2 linked regions of the Homo sapiens genome follow. The protein of the gene in region 1 purifies or fractionates together with the protein of each later gene. This does not show direct contact. Each region holds a gene or a part of one and is shown in the gene's direction. Other genes may lie near its edges.

The links. Proteins that work in one complex are often made in the same cells at the same time.
Region 2: the proteins of CNPPD1 (region 1) and SLC27A2 purify together in Homo sapiens (affinity purification with mass spectrometry; 2 studies listed by BioGRID and IntAct, with this or other methods). This does not show direct contact.

The regions. Positions count from the first base shown.
Region 1 is NC_000002.12:219,171,397-219,173,925, reverse strand, and holds the end of CNPPD1 (protein CNPPD1), read left to right. Parts: intron 1-458; coding exon 459-576; intron 577-797; coding exon 798-1,340; 3' UTR 1,341-2,029; downstream 2,030-2,529.
Region 2 is NC_000015.10:50,188,696-50,192,195, forward strand, and holds part of SLC27A2 (long-chain fatty acid transport protein 2), read left to right. Parts: intron 1-3,500. UniProt on the Homo sapiens protein: Mediates the import of long-chain fatty acids (LCFA) into the cell by facilitating their transport across cell membranes, playing an important role in hepatic fatty acid uptake.

The DNA.
Region 1 (2,529 bases):
TTATGTCTATAATCCTAGCACTCTGGGAGGGTGAGGCTGGAGGATTACTTGGGTCCAGGAGTTCGAGACCAGCCTGGGCAATATAGCAAGATGCCTGACCCTACCAGAAAAAAATACTAGCCAGATGCAGTGGTGTACACCCATAATCCCAGCTACTCAGGAGGCTGAGACAAGAGGATCATTTGAGTCCAGGATGTTGAGTCTGCAGTGAGCTATGATTGCACTACTGCACTCCAGCCTGGGAGACAGCAAGATCCTGTCTTAACAAAATAAATAAATAAAAATAAATAAAATATAGGTCTTGGTCTCACCCTTAGTTTCTAGATCAGCAGATAGCCTAGGAATCTGGGTTTAACAGGCTTCCCAGTGTTTCCTGGTGGGTCCTGAGTGGTATGAGGGTGCCACTGGGCTGGCTGCAGGACAGTTGCATACTCTTGTCATTTCTCCACTTCCCCCAGTGTGGCTGAGCAGCAGGGACGGTGGCGAGGCTGGTACACCTACACAGACCTGTGTGTGCTGCTGGAGCAGCCGACCTGGCAGTTGGCCCTGGGCTCCCTCTGCCAGCGGCTGGTAAAGGTGAGGAGGGGCTCGGAAGGATAGGGAGCTTGAGCAGGCCGGTGTGTAGGGTGGGATGGTGTGAAGTGATTGCTGAAAAGCCCAGGAGATGGGGTTGGGAATAGATGGGCAGAGTGGGGTGTAAATGGCTATAGAGACCTCCAACTGGAACACAGATTTCTAGAGACAAGGGGTGAATGTGTTAAAGACAGATTCCTTCTTTCTTATCTCCTCTCCTGCAGCTGTCTTGCCTGTTAGCTGTGGCATATGTGAGCAGTGTGGCCCTGGCTGTGGCATCGGTGGCCGTAATACATCAGTCTTTGGGGCTGTCCTGCATCCCTACACCTGGGCCGCCTGACCTTGGACTGACCTCCCGTTGCCTCCTGGAGCCCTGCATACCTTCTGTGCCACAATGCCTGCCGTCTCTCGCTAATGTCTCCAGCTGCCTGGAAGGCAGCATGGGGCTGCGGTCACTCTGGGGCAGTCTTCTGGCCTCACTGACTCCTCCACCATTGCCTCCCCCAGACCCCCCTGCCCCTCCCACTCTTCTTCATAACTGCCACCTTTGCCAGAAGCTCCAGAGAGACTCCCCAACCTGCCATGCCTGCCTCCACCCCAACCGTACAGTCCCCACTGCGCTGTCCAGCCCCTGGTACCATACCTATGGCCTGGCTCCCCCCTGGCCTTGGAGCCCGGTGCTCCTTTCACTTCCTCAGCCTCAGCAATGTTCCCTTTTCAGTGTCATGGAGCTGGCTCGCCTCAAGTCTTTCGTTTTCCCAGGCTAGGTAGGGCTGTGAGGAATGCATTAAGAGGGTTTGGGAGTTTCTGAGAACCTGGAGGAGCAAAGCTTGATTCAGATCCTGTCTGCCTCGCTGGGTCCTTGGCAGGTCCCCTGTCCTCCTGGGTGGGAGCTTATGGGGTGGTGGGGCAGAAGGACTGAAGGTAATTCACTCCTAGATCGCAGTGGCTGGCTGCTTGGCCAGGACAGTGATGCCGCCAGGGAGAGCTTCCGCTTGGTGACCAGGGACATGTCCCAGATGGACATAGAAGCCCCTCTCTGCCTCCCTGGGATTTTTTAGACTTTTACTTTTGATTTCCCTAGGATGGAAGAGTATAGGTGGGAGATAAGGGAAGTGGGGTGAGAGGAGAAAGGAAATGTTGGCATGGGCCTGTGTGATGTCCCTGAGGCAGAAGAGCCGGGGACTGATGGGTTCAGGTGGGAGCTGCTGGGTGAGGCAGGGAACCCTTTTCACTCCCATTCCTTAGCTTTAGTCTAATGGAGCCAAGGACTGCTGGGACCTTCAACCCTGATCTTTTGTCTTCCAGTCTTCTCTTAGTGTCCTGCTCCTAGGTTTCCCTCTCTTCTGGTTCTTCTCCCAGGTATTCTCTTCCCAGGCCTCTCTGGCCACTGCTTTGTATCAGGGTTTTTCACGCTTTTGTAGAACTGAGGTTTCAATAAACAGTTTCAGTTGCATGGCCTGGACTTTTCCTTCTGCGGCAGCCCTTGAAGATTTTTCCTCCCTGTATCTGCCTTCCAAGCCTCCCTGCTTCCTGATCCTGTCATCTCACAAACTGTTTTCTCAGCCTCATCTCAGGACTTTCCTATCGTTTGATAGGCATAGGCTTCCATTTCCAACTTTGTTCCTGCTCCCAGGACCCTGGGCCCTAGCACTGCTCAACTTGGGATGCCATGGGACACACATGGTGACTGTCCTGTCCCTGAGTTGGCCTTGTCTGTCACTTGTTCTGGGTAAGCACTCTCCTTGTGGATCCCAAAGCACATCTCGTGGAGAGGGGCCAGGCCTTGTAACCAGCAGAGCCTTGTGAGCTCCTGAGGGCAAGCCACGAGGACGCTTCTCTCTCCTGACCTCCTCACTGGTCTGACACATGGTGATGGTCACATGGTGCTTAACAATTCCAAGAACTTGAAGAACTCCAAGGCTGGGTCATCACTGGAGGAAGGAAAACAGTCTG
Region 2 (3,500 bases), on another chromosome or scaffold:
ATGCCTGTAATCCCAACACTTTGGGAGGCCAAGATGGGCAGATCACCTGAGTTCAGGAGTTGGAGACCAGCCTGGCCAACATGGCGAAACCCTGTCTCTATTAAAAATACAAAAATTAGTCGGGCATGGTGGCGGGCATCCGTAATCCCAGCTACTCCGGAGGCTGAGGCACAAGAATCACTTGAACCTGGGAGGTGGAGGTTGCAGTGAGCCAAGATCACACTACTGCATTCCAGCCGGGATGACAGAGTGAGACTGTCTAGATAGGTAGATAGATAGATAGATAAATAGATAGATAGATAGATAGATAGATAGATAGATAGATAGATAGATGCATACAAACATACATACATACATACATACATAATGGATAGATAATGTCTGTTGAATTAATGGGTTCCATTATTCTGGTTGATTGTGACAGGCTTTCTCTCCTGAAGCTTAAGGACCACTGGGTTGGGCATGAGGGCCTGAAAAATGATGTAACAAAATCAGATGTGAAAAAATCCATTTAAACTCAATCTACCCCAGGCCCAGCCTTACCCTACCACAGGCTTACTTACCTCTCAAAGGTCCTCCTAATCAATGACTCTGTCCAGCTCTCTGGCAGTACATGGTAGGACAGCGGTGCTCTCCTTGGGTCTCAGTGCAGCAAGTAAGCAGGTGGTGAGCACAGGATGGGCTGGAAAGGACCTGTGAGTAGGGTGGTGGAGGACCCTGTACAAGGACAGAAACCCAGACACCAAATGATTAATATATCCAAGGGCTGGGATTCCCAGCCTAGTAGCCCAAGGAAAGATAGCTTAAAGATATTCTCTAAGATTTTTCTTCTCTCCCTGCTCTTAACTAAAGCTTGCAAAGGAGGTGATTGTACATCTCCATCCAAGAACAAAACTAGCACTTTGCTGGCATATATGGGAATGCACTTTATTTTCTTCAGAAACAGGGACTGAAGAGGTAAAAACAAACTCTGAATCAGGTGTTGTTATTGAATCTGAAAGAGAAGGATAGAGTTCAGATTATTCTATATAATAGGTGCTAGTATTTGAAAAGGACCTTCCCACAGCCTCTGAGAAAAGGGAAGTAGATCATTGGTAGAAAGATGACATGGTTGCTTACAGATATCAAATGCTAACAATTATGTAAGGCCTTATGTGACCTGGTAACTCATGATAAGGAATTACCTTTGATTCCAGGGCTATTTAGAAAGCAAGAGTTCATATAAGCAAGAACTTTAACTTGGAGAAATAAAAATTAACATCAAGGAGATTACTACTTAATTACCTAAATGTAAAATGAGTATGTATTTCCTTGTTAAATTTTTGCTTACTCCTGGTGGAACTTAAACATTTTTATGACCTCCGGGTGATTTGTGTGGGGAAGAAGGAGGAGCACATGCATGTCTCTCTCTCTATATATAGTATTATAATGTGCATCATCTTGCTGTACAAAATACTGTCATTCCAAACTGCCAATGATTGAGATGCAAAATTACAGTTACAAATGGCATTTTAGGAACTATTTTTAGGTTGTCTTCAAGGACTATGTTATTAATAGCACCAGTTTGCATTTCAGTTGCTTTTCTGAATGAAGAAAAGAGATAAATCTTCAAGCTTGACTTGCTCATCAACCAACCATTTCATGATCAGAGTACATTTCCTTTCACTACCTTCCTTTTGGACCTTACCTTCTTGGTAAATATTTCTGGGGTGTTTTGTTTAATCCAGTCAGTTACTCATTCACTGAGGCAGTCTAGTAGCAGAACAAGCTACTAGACTGAATGTTTTCCTATTGGAAAGCTGCAGGTTTAGCCTGAGCACCTGACACCTTAGTAATGAAGATTGATTCAGCTCACCACCTACCCAATCTCTCTGCCTTCTAGCAATGGACTTGTTTATTCAGAAAATTCTTCCTTTTTCCTTAAAAAAAAAAAAAAAGGCAGGGGCAGACTTAATATGCTACCTTAATTTTTTAAAATTTTCTTTGAACAGACTTTAAAGGGGATGGGGGAGTAGTGTTGTAATCACTTGATTTTTCAACACCCAAGTGTGTGCTCTTTCTCTGTGGGTTTATTTCAGTCTACAACTTAAAACTAGACTGATGAAGAACCGACTGATGGAGCTGCTCTACACCCTTCAGGCAACTTTCTGTGACCACTGTTTCTCATACTCAAACTTTTAATAAAGCTTGAGGTTTTGCTCTTCAAGAAAAGATCATCCATGTTACTCATTAAATGCAGATCCACATGATTGAACAAGCACTGAGCAGAAGGCCAAGCAGCCAGCCTCTTCCAAGAAATAAGGCACTTTGCTAGAACTTAATCTGAATGGCTCATACAAGGAGGTGGGAACCTCAGAAGCCCAGAATGATTCTTTTCATTTTGCATGTGACCCTCCATACACTGACTTGGTGAGCCTCTTCTCATTTGTAGAAATAAGATTACTGGTATCTATATCACAGAGTTGTTATGAAAATTATGTGAAGTGATGTATGTAAAACTATACCAACAGTTCTATGCAAATGAAAATTTTAAATGTTTGTTATTAGTAAAGAGAGAGGTGGGTGCATGCTCTGATGTGCCACCCAGATCCCTGCTTTAGGACTGACGGACTCACTCTTCAGCTGCTGGGAGCTCTCAGCTGAGACCTCTCCCAGGACTTCTCCTTGGTTGAAGAGAGACACTTTGCCCAAGGTTAAGCACCACCACCCCAGCCTGAGTCCATTGGACTGGTCAATGGGCAGGTGTGAAGGCACAGCCTACCTCCCTTAATTTAGGAGGTAACTCTGAAGGGCATCCCAGGTCCAGAGTCCCCTTAGGATTAGAGGATCTGCTGAGGGAGACTTCTGTTGTGACTGCATTACAGTTCAATGTCTCCCTCTATCCAGTCTGCTTCCCTTGCAGCCTCACAGGTCCCATTCCCAAGAGCACTCCTGCATGCACATCTCGGAGTCTCAGAGAACCCAACCTTGACAAATAGAATTATAGGAGCTTACATGTTCTGATTGATAGATGAGCAGACTTTACAATAAAAATTATAAAAGGTAGATAGATATTTTATGCTTGCATTAGAAAATATGTAGGCCAACCAGGCAGTGGCTCATGCCTGTAATCCCAACACTTTGGGAGGCCAAGGTGGGCGGATCACTTGAGGTTGGGAGTTCAAGACCAGCCTGGCCAAATTGGTGAAACCCCATCTCTACTAAAAATACAAACATTAGCCGGGCATGGTGACAGCCGCCTGTAATCCCAGCTACTCGGGAGGCTGAGGCAGGAGAGCCGCTTGAACCCAGGAGGCAGAGATTGCAGTGAGTTGAGATCACGCCATTGCACTCCAGCCTGGATGACAGAGTGAGACTCCATCTCAAAAAAAAAAAAAAGAAAAAAGAAAATATGTAGGCCCAAACATATCTACAAAAGACTCAAGAAAATAAAAGACATTAAATATCAACTAGATAGTTGACAGGTAGATTCACATCCAGAATTTCCTTTCAAATTTCTT